Linked DNA regions of Homo sapiens: regions 1 and 3 are each linked to region 2. The links come from fine-mapping of genetic effects on gene expression. A gene starts in region 2. Each other region holds a variant in brackets. All regions are shown on one strand. Distances are from middle to middle. Region 1 overlaps RORA (RAR related orphan receptor A). Region 2 holds the start of RORA (RAR related orphan receptor A). Region 3 overlaps RORA (RAR related orphan receptor A).

Region 1 (2,679 bases), 530 kb after region 2:
GTGTTGTTTAGATTCAAATCTTGAGAAGTGGAGTGAAACAATTTCTGTGCAAGCTAAACTAGAGCAAGAAAAAAGTATATTTAGATAATTTTATTTGAATTTTTAAATTAAACATAAAAAGTAAAATCATAAAAATATTTTAAGTATAGGTGAATATATTTTTGCAATAAATAAAGTCCTTATAGGCATGCAAGGAAAGGCAGAAACCATAAATAAAAGATTACTAGATTGGATATTTTAAAGAGGATATTTATAGTAGAATTATTTTTAATAACCAAAAAGGTAGAAATTACATAAAGGGCTATGATTATCAATAAGTGGTAGAGCTAGTTTACATATACAAGAAACAAACTAAACAAAATTTAAAAGAAAAACTGGGGAGACAAGCAACATATGATTAACTATACAGAAGTCTTATAAATTAGTAAGTAGTAAAGGACTAATACCACAATACAAAAGTGAGCAAAGATTATGAACAGGCGATTAACAAAAGAGGAAATACAAAAGTCAAGAAACTTAGACAACAAAAACAAAATTTTTTAAAAATGCAGACAAAACAACATCATAAATGAACAAAGAAATGTCAATTTTAAAGGGACACCTTTTTAGCCAGTTAAATTATCAGGATTTATTTTTCATGATAAAGTTCTGCATTGGGACAGGTGTACACTAATCTAGGAATTATAAATTGGTAAACACTTTTTACAGGACACGATGATATCTATTCAATGCTTTTTAAAAGTTAAACTTTCAAGAATGTACTTCCAAAAAAAAAAAAAAAAACACAAATGCCAAAAGAAATCTATGTAACAAGGATATTTATAGTAGAATTACTTTTAATAACCAAAAAAGTAATTATGACATAAAGGGCTATGATTATCAATAAGTGGTAGAGTTAATGTAAATTTTAATTCTCCATTAAAACATTTAAAATTTTTTTCTACATGTCCTACAGTGAATATATAGTATTTTCAGTATTTAAATCATAATGTATCCTTCTTAAGAAAGATATTGGAGTGCTTTCACAGTGCCATGTCAACGAGGGGCAGGCTAGGGAGTGGTCGGCCCAGTAATTTATTTTATCACTGACATTACTAAGAATTGTCAGGACAGAGTAATAATCAAAAGCAAGCCAGCTTTTAGTGGGGCTTTTTTATTGTTTTTAGGCCATTGCCTGCACACTCCCACAGCATTCCCCATTCTTGAAACTTGACTATAGCTACTGAC[G/A]CTCCTGGAAAGAAGGAGGAACAGAAGACATCTCAGCTGAAGCATGGAGTATATATAAAAATCACTTGAAACTGAGACTTGATACAATGTCTACAATAAAATACAGAATCACTTCACGACTACAGACACGGAAGTGTTTTTTCCAGCTTACCCACATGATCCTGCTTTAAGTGTAGCATGGCATCATTTTCACTTTGTAGGCGTTTATTTTACACACATGTGTGGGATACCCACAGGAGCCTCGTTTCTCATTATTATATAGGAACTTCACAAGCGGAAGTGTTGTTGGCTGACTGAGAGGTATAACTCTGTGTTTCTCTCCCAGAGGAGCCGTGAATGAGATACCATGTAATATGAATGGAGACCCCCTTAGGCACCCTATAAATTTATTATAAAGCACTGGATTTTGAAATAACAAAAATAACATATGAAATTTGAGGAAAGTATAAAAATTAGAAATTTACGTCTCTTCAGAGTTACCCTAGACCACGGATTCTACTGAGTAACCGGCCTGATTGTGTGAACCCAAGAGCAGGCCTTATTTTATGTAGAGCAAGCAGGCAGAATTACTGCAATGTGTGAGTGGCTCTGAAGTTTCCAGTGTTTGGAAAAAAAAAAAAAAGTAGACTTGAAGGAAATAGCAAATGTAGATGACTCTGCAGGTTAAAGCAAGAAGAATAGATGGTTCAATGAGGTTTTGTTCACTTTTAACATCCACTTTGTAAAGGATCCTTAAAAAGGTTGTGTTTAGGGTTTTGGCTGTACTTGGAAGATGGAAGAAGGGAGGCTTCACTTGAGCGGCAGTGTGGTAGACAAAGCATCTAACCTAGGCTTGTGGCTTTTGAAAAAACAGTTTGTTGGGGTACATGTAGCTCTTTGCTCTAGATGTTTATTCCAATGGGCTTGGCATTTGGTTATCTTTTAAGGAAGTCATAAGCAGAGGTAACATTTGTAATGTGAAATTACTTGAAATTCTATAAAAAGCAATCCATAGCAATTGGCGTTGCTTTTAGTTCATGAAAGCTTAAAAATCTCTCGCCCTGTGTATTGTGGCAGCCAGTCAAAAGTGAGAGCAGAACATAAACCTCGTTCAGAAACCAGGCCCGCATTTTTGCTCCATTTGCAAATCCTTTACAATCCCAGAAAACAGTTGCCCTCTTTCTGTTGCCCACCCTAAATGCAGGTGATATTTACCTATTATATCAGTTTAATGAGCAGGCCATCTCACACTCATTAAGTCGATTTGAAAAATGATCAGAAGAATCAGGACTGTGTCCTCCGAGAATATAAATGCCTCTAAGGCTATATCCATTTTAGGAAAACCAGGTCTTTTACCTTTGCTCTGGCCTCACCTCAGCGTTTTCTTCTACAGCAGAAATAATGCATTTAGTCATTTCAGAACACTGGTTTAATGCATTAATAACTGCAGGTGCTTTTCCTAGAATTTTGGCT
Region 2 (2,679 bases):
TTGCAGTCAAGGTAACGATGATGCAATTATCTGCTTTCCTGGAGTTTTAGGTACCTACTAGGGGATGAATGTATTTCAATGGGAGGAGGGTGTAGAATGATGCCTATAATAATACGAATTATTAGGAGCTGTTAATTATCTGAATGTTATCCGGGCATTAGTAATGCCTCTCCAGTATATCTACCTTTTATGGATGAGACTGTACATTTAATAGGAAAAGTACCAGTGGGAATTGACAATTAGCAGCCACGCTTGAGCTAGATGCAGCGTGGCATGTTTTATCCAGCTTAGATAGTTGTCGACCAAACAGGCCAAAGTTTTCTTCAGTAGAAAATGCCCTGCCAAATGGTTTCTGGATCCTTCGCGGACAAACAGCAAAGGAGCTGAAAGCGACCTCTTTCAACCATGCCAGAAACTGTCCATGGCGCTTCTAGATTCACAAAATCTGTTTTAGACACAGATGTCTTTAACCAAGATTGGAAACCCACTGGCCGTCCCATCCCAAAGTAAAAAGTGCCACGTCCTCCCATCCTCCGCCTTCCTTGGGATGTCAGCCCCGTTCTAATTCCTTTTTAGTTTCTCCTCAGCCCTCGGCAGGGCTGGCAGGGGGCTACCTGCGATTTCCCAACGTGGACGTGGACAATCGGATTTGTCTCTACCCAAGCTGGCAGCGGATGGGGACGAGTTCTGTTCCCGAGAGAGTCTCAGAAGTAGGCACGGAATCATCTCACCGATTTTAATTTCTGTCCCTGGGCTGGGGAGAGGGGAGGATTGGGGCGCGGGAGGCTCTGTTCTCCTCCTCCCCTCTTTTCCCCACCTCCCAAAATTGGCAGCCAGTCTGTGGCTCTCGGTCTGGGGTCTGGAGGGTGGGGAATGTGGGTGTGGGGGCCGGCTGGAGAAGCTCTCGCTAGCGCTGCCTGTGGCCAGACCCGCCTCTTGTCCCCTTTCGGGCGCACACACACGTCCACCCAGACACTCCGCGCGCTCCCTCGCGCTTTTGCTTGCCCGCCCGCCGCCGCCTGCTTTTTCCCTCCTGCTTTCGCCGGTCGCCTTCTCCTTCTTTTTTTTTTTTTTTTTTTTTTTTTTTTTTTTTTTTTTTTTTTGGTACCATAGAGTTGCTCTGAAAACAGAAGATAGAGGGAGTCTCGGAGCTCGCCATCTCCAGCGATCTCTACATTGGGAAAAAACATGGAGTCAGCTCCGGCAGCCCCCGACCCCGCCGCCAGCGAGCCAGGCAGCAGCGGCGCGGACGCGGCCGCCGGCTCCAGGGAGACCCCGCTGAACCAGGAATCCGCCCGCAAGAGCGAGCCGCCTGCCCCGGTGCGCAGACAGAGCTATTCCAGCACCAGCAGAGGTAGGAGGCTGGAGAGGGGCTGGGGAGGGGGCGGCGGGAGCCCGGGCGCGGAGCGGGGGGCGGCCGGGAGCGGGCGCCCGGGGCGCGGGGTCCGGCGGCCGCGCGCGAGCCTGCGGCGGCGCCCCGAGCCCGGAGGACCCCCCTCCCCTCCCCCCTCCGCCCCCCAGAAATGTTGCAAACTTTTGCAGCCCGTTCTCGGCTTGCGGGAGCAGAGTGGGGCGGGGGAGGCGGCGGGAAGGTTGACAGCCGGCGGGCTCACCCCCCTGGCTTTGATTTTTCTGCAAACACTGGAGGAAAGCTGCGTTGCCTCAATTAAATACGCTCCCCCAAAATACGGAGATGCGGGGAGTGGGGGCCCGGGAAAGAAACTTTTAAAGCGGCAGTGTCCTTTTAAGAAGGGGCAAAAAAATCTGTTTATGGCCACCCTCCTTCCGCTTTACCTTTTCTCCTCTTGACAGTTTCGGCCCTGGCTGCCCGAGTCGGGGGTGTGTTTTCGGTCCCTCTCAGATCTGGGCGGGGGGCGGGAGGAGTGAGCGACCTGGGAAGTCCCGGGGGTGGAGAGGGGGCGCTCCGGGGTCTGGGGGCGACGTGGACACCTTCTTTGGAGCACGGCGGTGCGTTTGGGATTTGAAGGAAGGGCCGAAGGAAGCGGGGTGCGGGCGGGCGAGCTGTTCGCCAAGTTGTCTGGCGGGCGCGGCGAGGGGAGATGCGCAAGTTTGCAGACCGGGGGTTCGGAGCCCGGCGCCCAGGCTGGCGGGGGGCGTGTGCGCGCCAACGCGCAGAGGGCGGCGGTCCTGTGGGGCGCTCCACGCGCATCCGGAGGGAGCGTCTACAAAAGCAAGCACCGAAACTTATTTCTGCTCTGGGAATCCTTCCCTCTCGGAGGTTCCAAGCATTTCTGCAGGAACCTGGGGATGGTCAGTGCAAGTTGTATGCTGGTTGGATAGTGCAAGCAATGTTTTCTCCTCCCCTGGCGATTTTTACTCTTCATTTTGGTGTTTGGTCTGTGTCTGCGTGTGTTGGGGGGGATGGGGGGGACTCAGTTGCTCCCTCCTTTCCTAAAGTGAGCTGTTGAGGAAAGCTCACTCTTTCTTGAAGGTATTGGAACCTGATGTGTGTTTTTCTCGAGAGTGGGGGATTATTTATTTGAATGCGCCTGGAGTTTGCAAAGAACAGGAGGAAGCTACAGCTTTAATTACTGTTGTAAATAATGTATAAATCGCGCCTGTCACTCCGGAGGAAGCGTGCTCGCGCGAGCCGCCTGGAGCTGGGGACGGAGAGGATTTCTCCAGCCCCGGCTTGGGTACCGGCCCAGCGCGCCCCCT
Region 3 (2,679 bases), 410 kb after region 2:
GAAGGGAGAAAAAAAGAAAGAGAGAGAGAGAGAGAGAGAAAGAGAAGAATGAAGGAAGGAAAGAAGGAAGGAAGGAAGGGAGGGAGGGGAGGGGAGGGAGAGAGAAAGAGAGGGAAGGAAGGAAGGAAAGGGGAGGGAAGAAAGGATGGAAGAAAAGAAGAAAGGAAGGAAAGATGGGAAAGAAAGAAAGAAAATAATGAAGGGTACCTAATGTAGAATTTGGATTCTAACACGTTTCCAGGTGACACTGCTAATTTGGATGGAAGACATTTCACTTGCCTTATGAATTAGCTTAGCATATATTAGAATCACCTGGAGCCAGGGGGTGGTGCCTTTAAACGAAATACTGATGCCTGGCCCCACTCCCAGAGATTCTGTTAGCATTTGTCCGGGCCTGACCCTGGGCATCAGCATTTTTAAAGGCAGCTAATGCGCATGCTAGGTGGTGCCAGAAAGCGTGGTGCTGATTGCTGAGCACTGGCTAGTGTATACATCCTGGGGTGCTTCACCACCCAGATGCTGATTCACACACTCAACAGTCAGCCTCGTTGTGGGGAGCATTGCCTTCTTCTGAGGTGGATCTCACAAATCCCCAGTTGCAATGTGAGCCTGTAACTCTACCCACCTGTCATATGAAAGAACTGGATCTGGATGGACCTGCTTGCCTTGCATTTGAGCTCCAGTGTGGAGCGTTTCCACTGAGGTTAAATCATGGACGGTTGGACTGTCTGTACCTGACCTGGGAAGCTGGGATGGGAGAGTGGTGGGGAATGGGCTGGCTCATGGGTCTGTGTTAGTGTAGCTGGAGTTAGGAGAGCCAGGTTCATTTCCAGTTCTGCTCTGGTGAAGTAGAGACCTTGGCAAGTCATAGCACTCCTTGGGCTACAACTTCTTCCTTTGCAAAATGAGGCTCTTGAACTAGGAGATAACTATGCTTCTTTTAAACGATCAAATTCTGGCAATTTCAGTTGTGGAAGTAAGAGTGAAATTGAACCCCAATTTTCCCTTTGATAAAATAAGAGTTTTACCATTTACCACCAAACCTTGTTTCATTGCTCTCACCCTCAGTTTCTCTAGCAATACAATCAGGGTTTGGACTACACAGTGTATATATTTTTTTTAGTTCTAAAATTCCGTGCTTCTGTGAATACTGCTACTCATTGCTTTATTCAGATTTCCTTTATTTATTCAGCAAACTTTGAGTTTTTAGTATGAGGCTCAGGAGTCAGACTGCCTGGATTCCA[A/G]TCCTCAGCTGACCACATGCTAGCTGTGTGACTTTGATCGAATTACCTAAACCCTTTGGCCTCATTGCTCTCACTTATTCACATGGGATTAATAAAACTGGGGCTCTTGTAGAGTGATTGTGAGGATAGAGTAGCATAGCAAGTATTGCACAAAGGAGTATCTTGCACCTAGTGCAATGCCTGCCACATAGTAAGCACTCAGTAAATGTTTTTATCAGTACCATCAGGCCCCACACTAGTTGCTACGGATGCAAAGATGAGTAAGACACAGTCCTTGGCATCATAGAGCTTACAACCTAGGCAGGGAGGAGAAAGAGATACAAATCACTAGAATATGATGTGAAATGACAAAAGTGTGTTCCCAGCCTTTGAGGAATACAGAGGAGAGATAGGGGATAAAAGTGGTGAGTTACTAGTCACGTGGAAGCCTTTGAGCCACTTTGGGTGGTGAAAGGAAGAAGGAGCAGGCTCTTAATGCGAGCCCTACCTTCTGGAGGACTTAAGGGGACCACAGGCGCCAGGACACGGGCAGCAGATGGAGCGGACCCAGTGCAGAGCGTAGGGGCTAGAAGCCCCGGATCCAAACAGCCAAGGGGACAAGAGTCAGCACTGAAAGGGAACAGCACACAGCAGGGAGACGGAAAGAGGCTATGGCAAGGGGGAGTTGGCTAAGTAGAGCACACACTGCAGCCAATGATCAGTGAACCTGGAGGCACTGGAGGCATCTCCAGTGGAAGATGGATCCCTTGTACAGCCTAACTGGCCCTGTTACCTGGTGGAAGGAGCCAATGTTGGCCAAGGTCCTAGGCCCTACAGCTGGAAATAGGTAATTGGTGACACCTGGCATAGGTGAGGTATCCTCTGGCAGTGGGACAGCCACAGTTCCTGGTGGTGTTCCCTTCCAGAGAGTCTAGAAGCATAGAATTGCAGAGCTGGGGTGGGGGGTGGGGGTTAGAGATCAACCACCCCATTTACAGATCCCTGTACCACAACCAGAATCCTTCAGGGAAGGACTTTGGAATCTGCATTTTAAGCAGCTTCACTCATAGTTCTCTCATCTGTAGTCTGTGACTGCACTTTGAGAGACATTGTGAGATACTATATAGTCAAGGGAACCTCAGTAATGAAAAACCAAGACTAAGCCGACGGATTGAAAATTAGAAGTTGGGACCTCCAGATCTGCCGTTTTTACGGTTTAGGGGAAACCTGTGTTGTTTTCCTCAAAGTTTCCTGAAGGACCCATTCACCTGCCACCTCCACCCCCACCCCTCTGCCTTTACTCCCAGTGTGAAAGCTATAGGCCAAGAGGGTAGCATTTAGCTTTAAAATGTTTAAAAATTTTACAGAAAAGAGAATGCGCCTTTTTTCCCTCAAATCTTAAACCTTCTTCACGCAATGCAGGCCTCATTTTCACCAGCCCTTTTCCTATGTTTTA

The links. PIP is the estimated chance that this variant, and not a neighbour inherited with it, causes the effect.
Region 1: its variant is the best candidate, but not a certain one, in a credible set for the expression of RORA in whole blood (TOPMed, PIP 0.74).
Region 3: its variant is the best candidate, but not a certain one, in a credible set for the expression of RORA in whole blood (INTERVAL, PIP 0.82).

Annotation. Positions count from the first base shown.
Region 1 is chr15:60,696,735-60,699,413 of GRCh38, reverse strand. The region is part of intron 1 of RORA (RAR related orphan receptor A); the gene reads left to right. Among named protein-coding and RNA genes, the nearest start is that of RORA-AS2, 17 kb to the right of the region's middle. The variant G/A (reference allele first, on the strand shown) is at 1,228.
Region 2 is chr15:61,227,728-61,230,406 of GRCh38, reverse strand. RORA (RAR related orphan receptor A) reads left to right here and starts at 1,105. Exons shown (of 11, transcript NM_134261.3): 1 at 1,105-1,354. The coding sequence starts at 1,189.
Region 3 is chr15:60,820,471-60,823,149 of GRCh38, reverse strand. All of the region lies in intron 1 of RORA (RAR related orphan receptor A), which reads left to right. Among named protein-coding and RNA genes, the nearest start is that of RORA-AS4, 58 kb to the right of the region's middle. The variant A/G (reference allele first, on the strand shown) is at 1,245.